3 linked regions of the Homo sapiens genome follow. The protein of the gene in region 2 interacts with the protein of the main gene of each other region in a pairwise test. Each region holds a gene or a part of one and is shown on either strand. Other genes may lie near its edges.

Region 1 (7,000 bases), on a different chromosome or scaffold from region 2:
CACTAGTGCATCTTTTAAAAAGACATTTTCTTTTTTCCCCTGCATTACTTTTATTTCCTTCAGAAAAAAAAAAATTGATTTTGTTTGGGTTCCATCCTTTTATGTTTACAATTTTTCTCAAATTGATCTTTTATTTTTTGATCATAATAAATATACATGGAGTGTTCAGTTAATTAGGATAAAAAGCTGGTGGGAATAGCATGACTTTATGGAATACTGATTTGGTACTTACTGTGAGTAAGTAGGTGGGGATCTGCCTATATGCAGGCTTCCCTTCAGTATGCAGAGAAGTAAGAAATCAAATAAGGAAGTTGGAATGCTCTCATTTGCTAAATAATGAAGACTTCATTCTGAGGATGAAACACATTCAAGTATTTCCTTACTTTGTGACACTACCTTTCTTTTGAATATTTTTGCATATTCTCTCTGGCCCAATTGTTCTTGATTTGGGTTCTATACTAAATCCCCTTTTCTTTTCTTGCCTTCTTTTTTCCAACCTCTCCTTTGGAGATCTCATCCATTCATGTGGATATACACCGGTGTGGCCATTCCAATTGCTAAAATTTTGGAATGCTTCCATACTTCTTGGAAAGATCCGTTTTATAAGGCTCCCGAGATCCCCCAACCCCTATCACTACTCCAGCTCTCTTAAGCCCTCCCCCAAGAGCTCCCTCCCCTAAATTCCTAATGGTCCATCAGCTAAAGTCTCAATGCTGGCACAGCGGGATACTTCCAGCATCCTGCTTTAAGGTGACCAGTTCTGATTGGTCAGTACTTATGACTCCACCCTGAATCATGTTCCCTTACAGTGGGGATCCATGGCTATGCGTCAATACCCTAGTCATTCCTAGTTGACTTTACATTCAATTTCCCAAAAGGGAATTCCTCACCCCTCACCTAACAGATGACCAAGACATCAAGTCACTGAGAAGATAGGAGATTTTTGCTTTAAGCAAAGGTCTTTACCTAAGACATTATCTGTGCCTCAGCTTTACCATAGAGATCTTGTTCAGGGAACCTATGGAAGGCATAGATAACACTTTATTTGACTGTCATAGGAATATCAAGTGCTCAGCTAAGTTTTTCCCAGCAACTGTATGACAATACAACTCACAATTGAGGAACCTGGCCAGTACTGTATTTACATGTAGGTATTTACAGTTTATTAGAAGGAGAGTTGTATGCTATAGATAGCAGGCAAAGTAATAAAGTTGTTATTTTCCTATATTTTAAAGCCTTTCTTGTATTTTTGCTATAACACAGGGCCGCAGGAACTCTAAATGACAGTGAATGCTTAGATTAAAAACCAACAGGTCTCACGCCTGTAATCCCGGCACTTTGGGAGGCCGAGGCGGGCAGAACACGAGGTCAGGAGATCAAGATCATCCTGACAACAGGGTGAAACCCCGTCTCCACTAAAAATACAAAAAAAAAAAAAAAAAAAAATTAGCCGGGTGTGGTGGTGGGCGCCTGTAGTCCCAGCTACTCGGGAAGCTGAGGCAGGACAATGGCATGAACCCGGGAGGCGGAACTTGCAGTGGGCCGAGATCGCGCCACTGCACTCCAGCCTGGGCGACAGAGCGAGACTCCGTCTCAAAAAAAAAAAAAAAAAAAAACAAAAAAACAAAACCCAACAGGTCATGAAGGCTTTGCAAGTATCTCTTACCACCAACAACACCAAAGCCCCCATTCCTCTCCCTCACATTGAAGTAGAAGAAAACAAAGTCCATATTTCATGCGTTCCTTTGTCAAAATAACAAATTGGTTACGGCACATGTCCTGCAAGAAATAAAATGTGTCCATTGCTCAGTAGTCTCTCTTGCGAAGTCCCCCTCTGTATCTGTAACGTAAAATTCCTAAGGACATAAATGTAGTTTTAACTATTTTACGAATAGTACTAAAATAACTGGCATCCTGAACTTATCAATTCTTTTGTATATTAGATTTAATAACTTTCTTTGAAAGTTTCATATTTGAGAATAAAAATTAACTGGCATAAACTATTTCTTCTGAAAGATTAAAAGTGTTTGAACAGTAAATTACATGTTTGAGTCCCCCCAAATTGTATGACAGAATTTCTTCTGATTGTTAATATAATAATATCTGGTTTACTTTCTAGAGAATGAATGTATTTAATTAATAATCATAAAATTTAATAGTCAAATTAAGATGGAAGCTAAAGGGAAAATAGGTCATAATTTCTAACTAGGTAAGAATATAGTTATATCAAAATTTTCTTTTCAAATGTTTTATGTCTATCAGTATGAATTAAATAATGTTGAATTGCTATGGTGACAGTCTATGTTAATCAGCTTTTATTAACTATCTTTTAAAATGAAGAATGCTATGGTAACTTCACACTGTTAATATTTTTCATAAATTTGTGTTTTGCTAGTAAGATTCTAATAAAGCAGAGACAACCAAGTGTTTCTAAACTGATTTCTGTTTGAGATCTACTGAGGAAAACTGTCTTTGCATTTGGTGAATTTTGTAATGTAACATGCCTCAAATGATTCTCAAAACAGATGTTTAGAATTAAATTGAAAGTTAGAAACTCTAGGTTTAATAAAGCCATATTGCCTTATTTATTTTGAATTTTCATTTCTTTTTAGAACCTAAAATAACTCGTCCTCCCATAAATGTGAAAATAATAGAGGGATTAAAAGCAGTCCTACCATGTACTACAATGGGTAATCCCAAACCATCAGTGTCTTGGATAAAGGGAGACAGCCCTCTCAGGGTAAGTGGTTATGATGTTAAAACACATATATAAAATGTATTTTAAAATATAACATTTCTTTACACACTCAGTTACACACTTACAAACTTCTAGTATAAAGTAGTTTCCATGTACATTTTAACCAAATGTAAATATTTCTGTTTGCATATATGCAAACTGCATGGCATTTCATTTGGGTCTGGCTAGGGAAAAAAGAGATGGGAACCAATAATGTTAAAGATAGAAAAGGAGGCAATGAAAAAGCAAACCTGGAATCCTTTGTATTTGTTGGCTGGCTAAATCATTTATTTTTTTTTAATGTTGAATCTGAGACTTAGGGGATGAAAAAGAAAAACTAAAACCCAGGCTTTAGAACTGACAGTTTCTGGAAGGAGGGAGGGAGACAAGGTTCGGAAGAAAAGAAATGAGATCTCTGGAGAGAAGTTAGGCGAAAAGACTCAAGACTCATACACAAATACCTTGGCAAATCCCTCCTGAGTCATGAAGAGTAGTCACGCCTGTAATTCCAGCACTTCAGGATGCCAAGGCCTGAGGTCAGAAGTTCAAGACCAGCCTGGCCAACATGGCGAAATCCTGTCTCTACTAAAAATACAAAAATTAGCTGGGTGTGGTGGTGTGTGCCTATAATCCCAGCTACTCAGGAGGCTGAGGCAGGAGAATAACTTGAACCCGAGAGGCAGAGGTTGCAAGTGAGCCAAGATCTCACCACTGCACTCCAGCCTGGGCAACAGAATGAGACTCCATCTCAAAAAAAAAAAAAGTTATTATCCATATGCTTATTTTGTACTGCCTCTGTATCTTATCCCCACATTTATTGATAAATTATTATGAGGCATCATTATTGTCTTTCCATCTTTATATCACCTAAAAGATTACAGACTATGTTTTTCATTTAACAATGCATAGTATATTTTAAGAGGAATACAAAGGTGTCACTTTATGTCAATTAACTGAACTAAGGTATAAAATTGCTCAGCTTTGCTTTATTTAAAATAAAATAAATATTGCTAATTTTTAATGATTAATTATCTGGCTTTCCTCTTGTTATAAATCTTGGTGCATTTCCTACAATGACAAACAAGGGTGGTTGTACTTATGTTACTGAATTTAGGGTTCAAAACAGAAAAGACAGATGTAATATTTAAACTCCAAAGAGTAATTTTAATATTATGTGTGAAATTTTCTAGTATTTCAAAGGACATGTACTCTTCTAAAGATACCATCTAGGGTGCAAGGTAAACCTGATAGTTAAAAGCAATGTGTTTATTTATTCATATTTCAATAGCTTTTGGGGTACTAGTGGTTTTTGGTTGCAAGGATGAACTGTATAGTGGCCAAGTCTGAGATTTTAGCGTGCCTATTACCTGAGTGCTGTACATTATACCCAGTATATAGTTTTGTATGTCTCACCACCCCACTCTGCAACATTTCCCCCTTCTAAAAGCAATGCTTTTAATCAGATTTAGCTGTGACTTTGGGGAAGCAAAATAAGCCCATATACATATATATATTATACATATACATATTATATATATAATATATATATACACACACTCATGGGATGAAAGAAAATAAAAATAAACTATACCTCATAGGACCCTGGTGAAGATTAATTTAGGTACTCTTGCACTATTTCATTTAATATTGTATGTTTTACATAATAAGTGGCCAATAAAGGTCAAAGCGATATCTTTGATGATGATAATAGTGATGACAATAAGTTGATGATATTTGGCAAATGTATCCTTGATAGACCCATAAACATTTTTGAATTCACGTCCCTATCTCTGGCAGGAAAATTCCCGAATTGCAGTTCTTGAATCTGGGAGCTTGAGGATTCATAACGTACAAAAGGAAGATGCAGGACAGTATCGATGTGTGGCAAAAAACAGCCTCGGGACAGCATATTCCAAAGTGGTGAAGCTGGAAGTTGAGGGTAAGGAGCTGCATTTCTTCCCCTGACTGTGTGACCAGGGGCCTCACTGTCTACTGTGAAGGCTGCACCTGGGCTTGGGAGAGAAGAGATGTGGGCAGCCCACTTCCCTCAGTTGTTCCAGATATTAGGCCATAAGTTCAAGCGTATGATAACAGAAAAGGAAAACTGAAAAAAGAAAGAAATTTTCACTAGTATAAAAGGTCATATTCCATTGATTACTCACAATCACTGGTAATTTTTACCAAAACAGACTAAATTTACTGTAACAGTAAAATAATAGAAACCCATTTTAGAATGCCTTCCTGGTTTGGACAATTCTTCCCTCATTTAAAGACTTGGGCATAATAATTTTAATCTTTTTAATCATACAGAACAACTTTAAAAAGATGTGATAAGGAGGAAAAAGTAGCTATTTTCAGATAGTGTTCTATCACAAAGCTTGAAAAAAAAAACATTAACTCAAATCGTAAAGCCAAAAATAATCCCAGTTCTGTGAGTTATGTTATCAAAATCGTTTTTCTTTTCTTTCTGAAAATATTTTTTAATCAGCTAATTCAATAACTTGGTGTGAAAGGTCTTCACTGAGAAATCAGAATCCAAATAGGTCTAGGTGTTCTATTTGCTTGTTAGTCGGGTCCTTCTTGACCTAAAATTGCACCACATTTTGCTTAAAAAGAACTATCAGCACACCTCTATTAGGCGAATAAACTGAGTACAAACCCTTCCTAGCTCTTCCTGTTGTATGCCAGAGAATTAACATTTTTGGCTCCTAGCTTTCTCACCTGTTAAGTGGGGTTTGCTCTATTTAATGAAGTTAGGTGTTGATAGTGTTTAGCAGAGCATCTGGTCCTTTGTGCACCCTCAATAAATGTTGGCTATAAGAATTATCATCTATTTTTCTGCTTTTCTCTTATCTGATTGATAAGTGTTAGAGTATCACATACTGGCACAAATTACAGTTCAATCAGGAAAAGACTTGAAGAGTTCTCCATATTTTACTTTGATTCTGTCCTACTTTCCTTAGGCCAAAATCTATCTTTTTCTGCATATTTCCTTCTCATTCATATAGTTTTCTATTAACTCCTTTAAGATTATTTTTATTTCCTTGATGGACATTCCTGTCACAGCTTTAATGATCTCGTTTCCCACGTTTGCCTCCAATTGAGGTAACATCTTTATTATGTCATTGTACCAATTGCTCATAAAATTTTCATTAATTCCTCATGGAAAATAATGAGGTTGGTGGGAATAGTGGCTGTCAGAATATAAAAATACATTTTCATCAAGTTGCTGTAATTTAATATCTTCTAAATAATCAGTGCTATTTGAAGCTCCGTATTCAACAACCAGTTGATATGATTTATTCAGTAAAAACTAAATAAACCTACAAACCCACCCAGACACACATTCAGACTCACTGAATATCTGTCTGCCTAGATCCAGTGTTTTCTTGTTCTGTCTAAGGAATGATGCAGAATTAATGCTATCCATTTGTATAAAATATCACAAAGAGTTTTTCTCTTTAAGATATTAAAAATAAGCTTTCTGTATTATAATATTTAATACTGATCATTTAGGTCACTAGCTTCATAGATATTAAAACAACTTGCTTTACCTTTGACCTAGAGAAAATTATCACCGAACTCCATTAGTTGGAGTTATTATACAGTTTGGTTTTGTGTTACCATTTAATTTTGTATCATGCCTGTCAGTAACATTGAATACTGCCTCTTTTCTCGTAACCTTTAAATGGTCATGCTTAGTGCTTTAAAAGTTAATATATGCTAGAGATAGTATTAAATTTGCTAGAACTGAGAGCTCATAATATCATTTAAAGTTATTCTAACTGTAGGTAAGATGATTTTCGCACACATTTAGCACACATGCCTATTTCTACCCTCATCTTAGTCCCTATTAAAATAGCCAAAATATGTGACATGCTTAGCACAATTGCTGGTACATAATAAGCATTTAATAAATGGAATCTACTATACTTATTATGATTAAAACATAAAATTGTAACAAATTTGCTTTGGCTCTGGAAGCTCTGAAAGGTTGACTTCCACTTGAATAAATAGTTGAGGTATTTTCATAAGATATAATGTAGACGTGACCTATTTAGAGGTAAGGCTAACTCAACCTACAACTCAGAACAAGTTTTTTTTTAAAAAAAAGCAACTGAGAAATGACTGGAAAAACCTCAAAAGTACATGCAGATGCCTGCTAGTTTGGCAATGATGAGGACTGAAGATGATGAGGCAGGGCCATCGTCAGTTGGGGCAGACGAGCATATGTATGTATCAAGTCGTAACTCTGCAAATTAG
Region 2 (7,166 bases):
GGCATTTTAAATAAGGGATATTCAATCCGTATAGATATTCTACATAGTCAAACTTTAATGGACTTACTCAGTTGCAGTTAAAATAGGTAGATCTCATTTTAATAAATATAGCAATGTTCTTGCCACTTCTAAAAGATTCAATGCTACTAATTCTCTTTGAGTTACAACGTGGAACATATCATAGATGTCTTTCCCCAATACTTTGCCTATTCAGAAGTCAGTATACTTAAATTGTGTTTGATATATCCATAATTTAATTTGATGTTCTTAGGAATTTAACCGGTTTTAAAAGGTCATTGATTTTGAAACTGGAAGATTTTTTTGACAGTTGAGACATGGCTAAGAGTAAACCTGGTCATCTTGATGATTTTTGCTTAGTTGGAAAGATAGGGAGTTAGTAAAAATAAGTACTAGGGAAAGGATAGGGCAGGTAACTATAGACATAGCCGTAATTTATTTTGTAAAAGACAGATGTAAACAAGGTTATTGTCCATATAATTTGCTATTCACCAAGTACTAGTCTTCCAGATGGTTTTAGATAATTTACATTTTTGAAATTCCCACTGTACTTTATAAATATACATACAGTATTTATCACATTAAATTAAAGTATTTGTTTAAAGGTCTATCTCCTCAATGGGAGGCTGAGGCAGGCGGATTACATGAGGCCAGGAGTTCGAGACCAGCCTGGCCAACATGGCAAAACCCCGTCTCTACTAAAAATACAAAAATTAGCTGGTTATGGTGGTACACACCTGTAATCCCAGCTACTCGCGAGGCTGAGGCGCGAGAATTGCTTGAATCTGGGAGGTAGAAGTTGCAGTGAGCCAACATGGCACCACTGTACTCCAGCCTGGTTGACGGAGTGAGACTTTGTCTCAAAATGAAACAAAAACACGCACAAAAAAAGGTCTAGTTCTTCAAAACTTCTTTTCTTGAAATGTCACCATGGTCTTATTAGACAGGAAAAGCCTCTGTGGCAGTTTATTTCCCACCCTAGGTAACCATAATATAGCCCATATTTCTTTTCATACCATTATCTAAAAACAACAACAAAAAATAATAATGGAGATAAACCTAAATGGATAAACTCCTTTTTAAACACTCATTTACTGTTATTATTTTGTGGGAGAGGAGTGGGGTCTTGCTCTGTTACCCAGGCTGGAGTACAGTGGCGCGCTCTCATAGCTCACTGTAACCTCAAACTCCTGGGCTCAAGCTGTCTTCCCACCTTAGTCTCCCAAGTAGCCAGGACTACGGGCACACACCACCATGCCTGGCTTAATTCTCAAAGTTTTTGTAGAGATGGAGTCTGGCTATGCTGGCCACATTTACTTAAGTATATCTTTTTATTAAATTCAAATACAGTTTAAATAAAAGGGACAAATTTAGGGCCTTTGTAATTAGTAAACGGTTTGTTTTTGTAAAGTTTTTCTACTGTTTTTAAATGTGAGGTAAGGTCATAATTTGCTTCATATTAGGTTGGTGCAAAAGTAATTGCAGATCTGCCTCTGAAAAGTACAAAATCTATTCGCTGTTACGTTAGGGCTCTATTTTGATAGTTTATTTTTATTTAGTAGTAGTCTATTGGGCCTTCAAAACTTGTTTAAGCATATTTATACATAATTATGTGCATCGTCTTGTGCTTTCTCACATTCATAAAGTAGATAGGAAAACTCCATAGGCATCAAGTGTAAACGAAGGACTTAATGTTGAATTTGTTGTGGAAATTGGCACAAATCTCAATATAGAACATTGGTTAATTATTAATCTTACCAAATGCTTATCTCACTTTCCCTAACTCAAGTTATACTCAAGAAATACAAAGATAATTGAATTCTAATCTATGCTGACATAAAACTTGCTGCAGAAATTAACACTTAAAACTTGCAAATTATATTGTCTTAGCCCAGGCTGCTCAAACAAAATACCATAGACAGGGTGGCTTAAACAACAGACGATTATTTGAGTTCTGGAGGCTGGCAAGTCCACAGTCATGGTCCGGCTCTGGTGAGGACCCTCTTGCTGGCTCGCAGATCCCTCCCTTCTTGCTGTATCCTCACACGGCCAAGAGAACGAGTTCTTGCCTCTTCTTACAAGGGTACAATCCTGTCATGGAGGTTTCTACCCTCATGACCTCAATCTAAAACTGATTATCTTCCAGAGACTCCACCATCACATCTTGGGGGTAAGGATTTCAACATAAGAATTTGAGGTGATGCAAACATTTAGTTCATAACACATATAAATTATTTTTTTTTACTTTGCTCATGAATTATTAGTGCTACTGTTTTGTACTATTTAAAATGCAGAAAATGGGAATTAAATATATAGGATTTAAAACAATGTGTCAAGAAATTCAAGGTTATCTGATTCTCATGCCATCGTGACTTGTTAGTTCATTTATTGAACAGGTAATTATTGAACAACTTAACTAGTTATACATACTTGATACTTAAGTGAATTGTATTATACATTTTACACATACTATGTATCAGTGAACAAATAAAAATCTTTTCTGTCATGGAACTTAATGCTCTAGGTAATAAAATAACATCTATAAACTCACTTAAACTTATCACTAGCAAATGAAAACTTATTATCTGGTAATTTCTAGAATTGTCATGTTAAATTGCTTTAAGTATGGAGCCAAAAGCACTACAGGTTGAGTATCCCTAATCTGAAAAATCTGAAATGCTCCAAAGTGAAACTTTTTGAGTGTCAGCATGACAGCACAAGTGAATTCCACACCTGACCCCATGTAATGGGTCACTGTCAAAATTTTGTTTCATGCACCAAATGACTGTATGAAATTACGTTCAGAGTATATATGGTGTGTGTGAAACATAAATGAATTTTGTGTTTAAACTTGGATACCATCCCCAAGACATCTGAGTATGTATATGCAAATATTTCAAAATCTGAAATCTGAAACACTTCTGGTCCTACCTTGGGACCAGCATTTTAGATAAGGGATACTCAACCTGTATTGAATATAATAAGATGTCATTGAAGTTGCCATTTTTAACTTCAGGAAAATTTTTAAATGGTAAAAGGTTAATTAGATTCTGTGAAGTATGTAAATTAATTCTGACTCTTAAAGTATACTGGGAGAGGCAAGGAGTTGTCTAGAGATTTGGGTTCCAGTACTGCTGTTAACTAGGTCGGTGATGTCCAAGTATTTGGTAATGTAACTGTTTTATGTCTTAGTGGTTCTCTCTAAACAATAAAGATTGCAGTCAATATATATTAACTACCATTTATTAAACACTTGCTGTGTGTCCCAGGTGCTATGCCAAACATCTTACATAAAGGTTCCATCAAGCTCTAAAATTGTAGGTATGAAATATCCCTGTTAACCTTTTGAGGACATTAATGTATTAATCTTGAATCATTGAAATATCTTGCTGCCCACTTCAGGTATATTATAAAATTAGCTTTAATTCCCTGGACTTAAGCAGAGATGTGGGTTCTGTGTATTTTCAAACATCTGTGTTATATAGTAAGATGATGTTTGATATTTTAAAATATTTATCTTCCCTGTCCTCCCCCTGCTTTTTTTTTTATACAGCTACCTGTACTACAGAAACATGGAATAACCCATATAATATGCATACGACAAAATATTGAAGCAAACTTTATTAAACCAAACTTTCAGCAGTTATTTAGGTAAGAATTATTGCTATGATTTGTAAAACACTTAATGAAGTTTCATTTCAGGTTTTGTACCATCAGTTGTTTCTGTACATATCTAGTTTGTAAAAATGGGTCATATAGTACATAGTTTTTTAAAATAAATTTTACTTAAAATACTTAAATAAATTATGCCCATAATGCAGAATTCTAAAGGTTCAAAAGAGTGTATATTGTCAAGAAGTTTCTGGGAAAGTAAAAATAAAAAAGAATTTAAAAATAATGTATACTGAAAAATAGGTTTTAGTGTACATTATTTTATCTCTTGAGGGATAAAGGAATTGAGTATCTAGGGGATAGGTTTAGGGAAACAGCATCTACTGTTACCTCTTTATTGGGTAGTTTTTGAGTGTTAGGTTAAATTTATGAGCATAGTCTTATAGATAAATTTTTTTTTACATTGGCTTTCTTTTTTACTTTATATTTTTTGGAGATTGGTTTATATCGGTATGTATATCAAACTGCTTATTCTTTTTAAGTTGCATTGTAATCCATTGTATGGCTATACTAAAATTTATTCAATTAGTCTGTTAGATATTTAGATTGTTTCTGGCCTTGTACTAATATGTATAGCATATAGTGACTATCATTGTACATATTACTCAATTTATATGTGAGCATATTGATAGGGCTTATTTGCAGAATTGCTGGATATAAGAGTATGAACATTTTAAATTTTGATAGATGTTGCAGATTGTTTTCCAGTGCGTTGTATCAGTGTACATTCCCATTATCAAGTATGTGAGAGTGACTCTTCCCTTAGTATCTCTCCAAGACGGAATTGTGAAACATTTTTAATTTCTCAAAGTCTAATGGAGTAAAAATGGTATCTCATTTGATGTTCTTATTTATCTTGTAAGTTCAGTTGAGCATGTAATGGTTTTTAATGTTCTTTATTTTAACTTCATTTTTAAAATAGAGTATATTACGCATGGTACAAAAGTGAAAGGATATGTAAACATATATAATGAAAGTAACTCTACTTTTTCTCTTAACCCAAGCCACCTTGCTCCTATCCTGGGAGGCAGCTTCTTCCTTCAATATCTATGTAAAAGTATATATGTTAAAAATATTTTAGGCCAGCACGGTGGCTCACGCCTGTAATCCCAGCATTTTGGGAGGCCGAGGTGGGCAGATCACCTGAGGTCAGGAGTTCGAGACCAGCCTGGCCAACATGGCAAAACCCCATCTCTACTAAAACAAAAATTACCTGAGCGTGGTGGCACATGCCTGTAATCCCAGCAGCTCAGGAGACTGAGGCAGGAGAATTGCTTGAACCCAGAAGGCAGAGGTTACAGTGAGCCGAGATCACACCACTGCACTCCAGCCTGGGCAACAGAGCAAGACACCGTCTCAAAAACAAAACAAAACAAAACAAAAAAAAAACAGCGCTGTGGCTTACACCTATAATCCCAGTACTTTGGGAGGCTGAGGAGGGTGGATCACGAGGTCGAGATTGAGACTGTCCTGGCCAACACAGTGAGACCCCGTCTCTACTAAAAATACAAAAATTATCTGGGCGTGGTGGCACATGCCTGTAGTCCCAGCTACTCAGGAGGCTGAGGCAGGAGAATCACTTGAACCTGGGAGGCAGAGGTTTCAGTGAGCCAAGATTGCCCCACTGCACTCCAGCCTGGCGACAGAGCAAGACTCTGTCTCAAAAATAAAAAAAAAAATTTAATGCTCTGCTTTATTTTTACAATGAAACCAATCTATAAATATCTGTAAATACAAGATACATACTCTAAAATACATTGTGTGAACATATAATAGAATACTATGTAACCATGAAAAAGAATGAAATATATGTATGTGTTTGGATTTGGGATGATCTCCAAGATAATGCATTACATGAATAAAGCAGGGTGTGGAACAATGTATATATTTGCAATGTGTTGAGTAAATATATATATACTACATTCCATATATTTATTCTTAATATATGCATAGAAAATTTCTGGACCAAGAGGCTAGAAACTTCATAGTGATTGCTTCTAAGAAGGAAAATTCAGGGCCTGTGATGGTAGAGGGACGTATTTTTCTTTCGTTTTTAATTTTGTTTTTTTTTGTTGTTGTTGTTTTTTTTTTTTTTTTGAGATGGAGTCTCACTCTGTCACCCAGGCTGGAGTGCAGTGGTGTGATCTTGGCTCACTGCAACCTCTGCCTCCTGGGTTCAAGCGATTCTCCTGCCTCAGCCTCCTGAGTAGCTGGGATTACAGGCATGTGCCACCACACCCAGCTAATTTTTTTTTTTTTTTTTTTTTTGGACAGAGTTTCGCTCTGTTGCCCAGGCTGGAGTGCAGTGGCATGATCTCGGCTCACTGCATCCTCCGCCTCCCAGGTTTAAGCAATTCTCTGCGTCAGCCTTCTAAGTAGCTGAGATTACAGGTGCCCACCACCACTCCCAGATAATTTTTTTTGTATTTTTAGTAGAGACGGGGTTTCAGCATCTTGGCCAGGCTGATCTTGAACTCCTGACCTCTTGATCCACCTGCCTCAGCCTCCCAAAGCACTGGGATTACAGGTGTGAGCCACCGCACCTGGCCTAATTTTTGTATTTTTAGTACAGACGGGGTTTCACCATGTTGGCCAGGCTGGTCTCGAACTCCTGACCTCGTGATCTGCCCACCTCGGCCTCCCAAAGCACTGGGATTTACAGGCGTAAGCCACTACGCTCAGCCGAGGGACATATTTTTCATGGTACCCTTGATATCCATGGGGGATTGCCTCCAGGAACCCCCATGAATAACAAAATCCTCAGATGCTCAAGTCCCTTATATAAACTGGTGTAATATTTGCATATAACCTGTGCACATTCTCTCATATACATTAAATCATCTCTAGATTACTTCTAATACTTAGTACAGTGTAAGTGCTGTGTGAATAGTATTGGATTTTATTTTTATTATTTTTAGTGTTGTATTTTACCTTATTTTTTGTTAATGTTTTTTATTGTTGTCGGTTGAATCCACAGGTATGAAATTCTTGGATATGGAGGGCTGACTCTTTACTTTTGTAGTGTTTTTTTTTTACACCATATTTAGTTTATTAAAACTAGTTATTAAAAAGGAATATCCCAAAACACTGATTTTTTTTTTTTTTTTTTTTTTTTTTTGAGACAGAGTCTCGCTCTGTCATCCAGGCTAGAATGCAGGGCTCACTGCAACCTCTGCCTCCCAAGTTCAGGCAATTCTTCTGCCTCAGCCTCCTGAGTAGCAGAGATTACAGGCATGTGCCACCACGCCTGGCTAATTTTTGTATTTTTAGTAGAGACGGGGTTTCACCATGTTGGTCAGGCTGGTCTCAAACTCCTGACCTCGTGATCCGCCTGCCTTGGCCTCCCACAGTGCTGGGATTACAGGCGTGAGCCACTGCGCCCGGCCTGAATTTTTTATAATTATGAAAGAAATACTTTTTTTTTTTTCAAAGATAGGATCTTTCTCTGCTGCCCAGCCTGGATTGCATTGGCATGA
Region 3 (2,555 bases), on a different chromosome or scaffold from region 2:
TCGGGGGTACAGAGGGTGCCAGGCAGATGAGGGCGGCCTGAAAAGTAGAGAGACTCCCTTAAGCTAGGCATCAGGAGACCCACAGCCCTGGTCCTGACAGCCTGTGAGACCCTTGGCAAGTCACCCCCACCCTGTATCTTAGTCTCTTGTCCAAGGGCAGAGGGGTTTGGATGGGATGAGTTCTGAGGTCCATTGAGCCCCTACTTTCCAGGGTTCTTGGTGACTCTGGAGGATGAGAAGATTGGGAGAGGTATCCCAGGGGCAGGAGCTAGTGCGTGGCTCTTATGCCCCACACCTCCTCCACCCTCACCCTCACTTTCCAGACTTCGGGATGACTCGGGACGTGTATGAGACAGACTATTACCGCAAGGGTGGGAAGGGGCTGCTGCCCGTGCGCTGGATGGCCCCCGAGTCCCTCAAAGATGGGATCTTCACCACCCACTCGGATGTCTGGTGGGGCCGAGCTGGAGCACAGGGCTCCAGGGATGTGGAGGCGGGATCTGGGGAGGGGCCTGGAACACCCCCATCCCTTGGAATGCACTGAGTAGCACGAAGGGTGCTGGGCTCAGGAGCTCCTGCATGCCCCCAGGTCCTTTGGCGTGGTACTCTGGGAGATTGTGACCCTGGCAGAACAACCCTACCAGGGCCTGTCCAATGAGCAGGTGCTGAAGTTCGTCATGGATGGCGGGGTCCTGGAGGAGCTGGAGGGCTGTCCCCTTCAGCTGTGAGTCACCTCCCCTGCCCCTTCCTCATTGTTGATCTACCTACAACCCTCCCCCACCCGGCCCCATGATTCTGGCTCACCTCCTCTGATGCTTTGACATCCACTGACCCTCAGCTATGAGCGCCACCCCCCTATCCCAAACCCCCAAGACTCCCATTTAATCCCTTCTCACCCTCCCAGGCATAATGGCCCACGATCCCCACTCCCACCAACTGACCCTCAGTGCAGGAGGCTGAGAGCGTGGCAGGGGCTCCCGGATGCCTCTGACCCTGCTCCCCACACCCACCAGGCAGGAGCTGATGAGCCGCTGCTGGCAGCCGAACCCACGCCTGCGCCCATCTTTCACACACATTCTGGACAGCATACAGGAGGAGCTGCGGCCCTCCTTCCGCCTCCTCTCCTTCTACTACAGCCCGGAATGCCGGGGGGCCCGGGGCTCCCTGCCTACCACCGATGCAGAGCCTGACTCCTCACCCACTCCAAGAGACTGCAGCCCTCAAAATGGGGGTCCAGGGCACTGAGGGGCACCTCATTCCCTGGCTGGCCTCCCATGGGGAGACAGGAAGGGACCCGACCTCTGTGGCTGAGACGCCTGAATGTTCACCCCCACCCCAACTCAGGGCAAGGGATGGCCGAGGGTGGGGCAGAGAACAGGAGCAGGGAAGGCTGTGGGGGTGGGCAGAGGGGTCTCACCATAGGAGTTTCTCAGACTCTGAGTCCCTCGGGGGAGAGCAAGCAGGGTCAAAGCCAGAGGAGTAGAGATCAGGTCAGGGAGAGATGTCCTGCCCTCAGAGGTAGGGACCCCACTCAGACTAGGAAGAGGGGGCCCGCCCACCCTAGAGGCCCTGCCCCTCAGTTTGGGGTCTCCTCTGGACAGGTAGGGCCAGCGACATGTTTGAAATCAGATGAGCAATCAGAAGCAGGCCTGGGGCGCTCTCCATGCATGTATGGGAGGGGGGTGGGGCTCCACATGACTGCCTTGCTTGCCACTGGTTTCACCTCCTCCCCTCAGCTCCACTGACCAGGTGGCATGGGGAGAACCCAGGGGCCTGGGGAGTGGTTCCCAGCCTGCCCGCCCTCACCTCCTCCTCTCCTTTTGCCCTGCCCAGGGCTCCCCAAGCTTGGTGCTCCTTCCTCCTTTTCTCCAGGGGCATCCCTTGGAGTACAGTCACCCTTTCTTCAGTCCCTCCCCTCAATGATTAGCCCTGGATGCTTAAGGCTTTCAGAGCCTCATCTTCCTCCCTCCCCTCACCCTCACCCAGCCCCGCCCCCACCCCTGCCTCTCATGGGAAGACTGGAGAAGGCACAATAAATGCTGAGGCCTGTTTGTACCCTGGTCCCAGGCAGCCCATTATCTCTCCATCTACATGGTGTTAACACTGGATGAACTTCCTTTCTCCCTCCTCTGGGACTCGAGGTGGTGACCCTAAGGCAGAGACACGGGATAAATACACTGCTGTCAAACACCACCTCCATGAGGACCCGAGCAGCCAGGGTTGCCATGGCAGTGAGGCAGGACAATCTTGCTATTATCTCCTGCTCAGGACCAGAAGTGGTTGAGCCCGGCAGGGAACCTTTGTGTCTAGCCTCCAAGCAGAACCAACCAGTCCCGGACACCTCATCTTAATTTCACCCCTTGTTATGTTCGTTATATCGGTCCACTGGGTAGGTATTTTCTGGAGTGTCATAGGACAGACTTTAAGTGGGCAGACATGGGGCAAGGGAGAGGCCCTGATGACATCACCTGTTCATGCCAGATGCCCCCACCCAAGCCAGGGAACACACAGCAGAGCAGGGTCTGTGTGTCTGGCACCCTGTGGTTATCCTGGGA

What was found. The genes of interacting proteins can lie anywhere in the genome.
Region 1: the proteins of STYX (region 2) and MUSK interact in a two-hybrid assay, tested with the Homo sapiens proteins (one study listed by BioGRID and IntAct).
Region 3: the proteins of STYX (region 2) and INSRR interact in a two-hybrid assay, tested with the Homo sapiens proteins (one study listed by BioGRID and IntAct).

What each region holds. Positions count from the first base shown.
Region 1 is NC_000009.12:110,692,791-110,699,790, forward strand, and holds part of MUSK (muscle, skeletal receptor tyrosine-protein kinase isoform 1 precursor), read left to right. Parts: intron 1-2,612; coding exon 2,613-2,740; intron 2,741-4,534; coding exon 4,535-4,676; intron 4,677-7,000.
Region 2 is NC_000014.9:52,747,112-52,754,277, forward strand, and holds part of STYX (serine/threonine/tyrosine-interacting protein), read left to right. Parts: intron 1-3,571; coding exon 3,572-3,669; intron 3,670-7,166. UniProt on the Homo sapiens protein: Catalytically inactive phosphatase. Acts as a nuclear anchor for MAPK1/MAPK3 (ERK1/ERK2). Modulates cell-fate decisions and cell migration by spatiotemporal regulation of MAPK1/MAPK3 (ERK1/ERK2).
Region 3 is NC_000001.11:156,839,563-156,842,117, reverse strand, and holds the end of INSRR (insulin receptor-related protein precursor), read left to right. Parts: coding exon 1-6; coding exon of another isoform or gene 7-37; intron 38-323; coding exon 324-453; intron 454-589; coding exon 590-724; intron 725-1,013; coding exon 1,014-1,245; 3' UTR 1,246-2,055; downstream 2,056-2,555. UniProt on the Homo sapiens protein: Receptor with tyrosine-protein kinase activity. Functions as a pH sensing receptor which is activated by increased extracellular pH. Activates an intracellular signaling pathway that involves IRS1 and AKT1/PKB.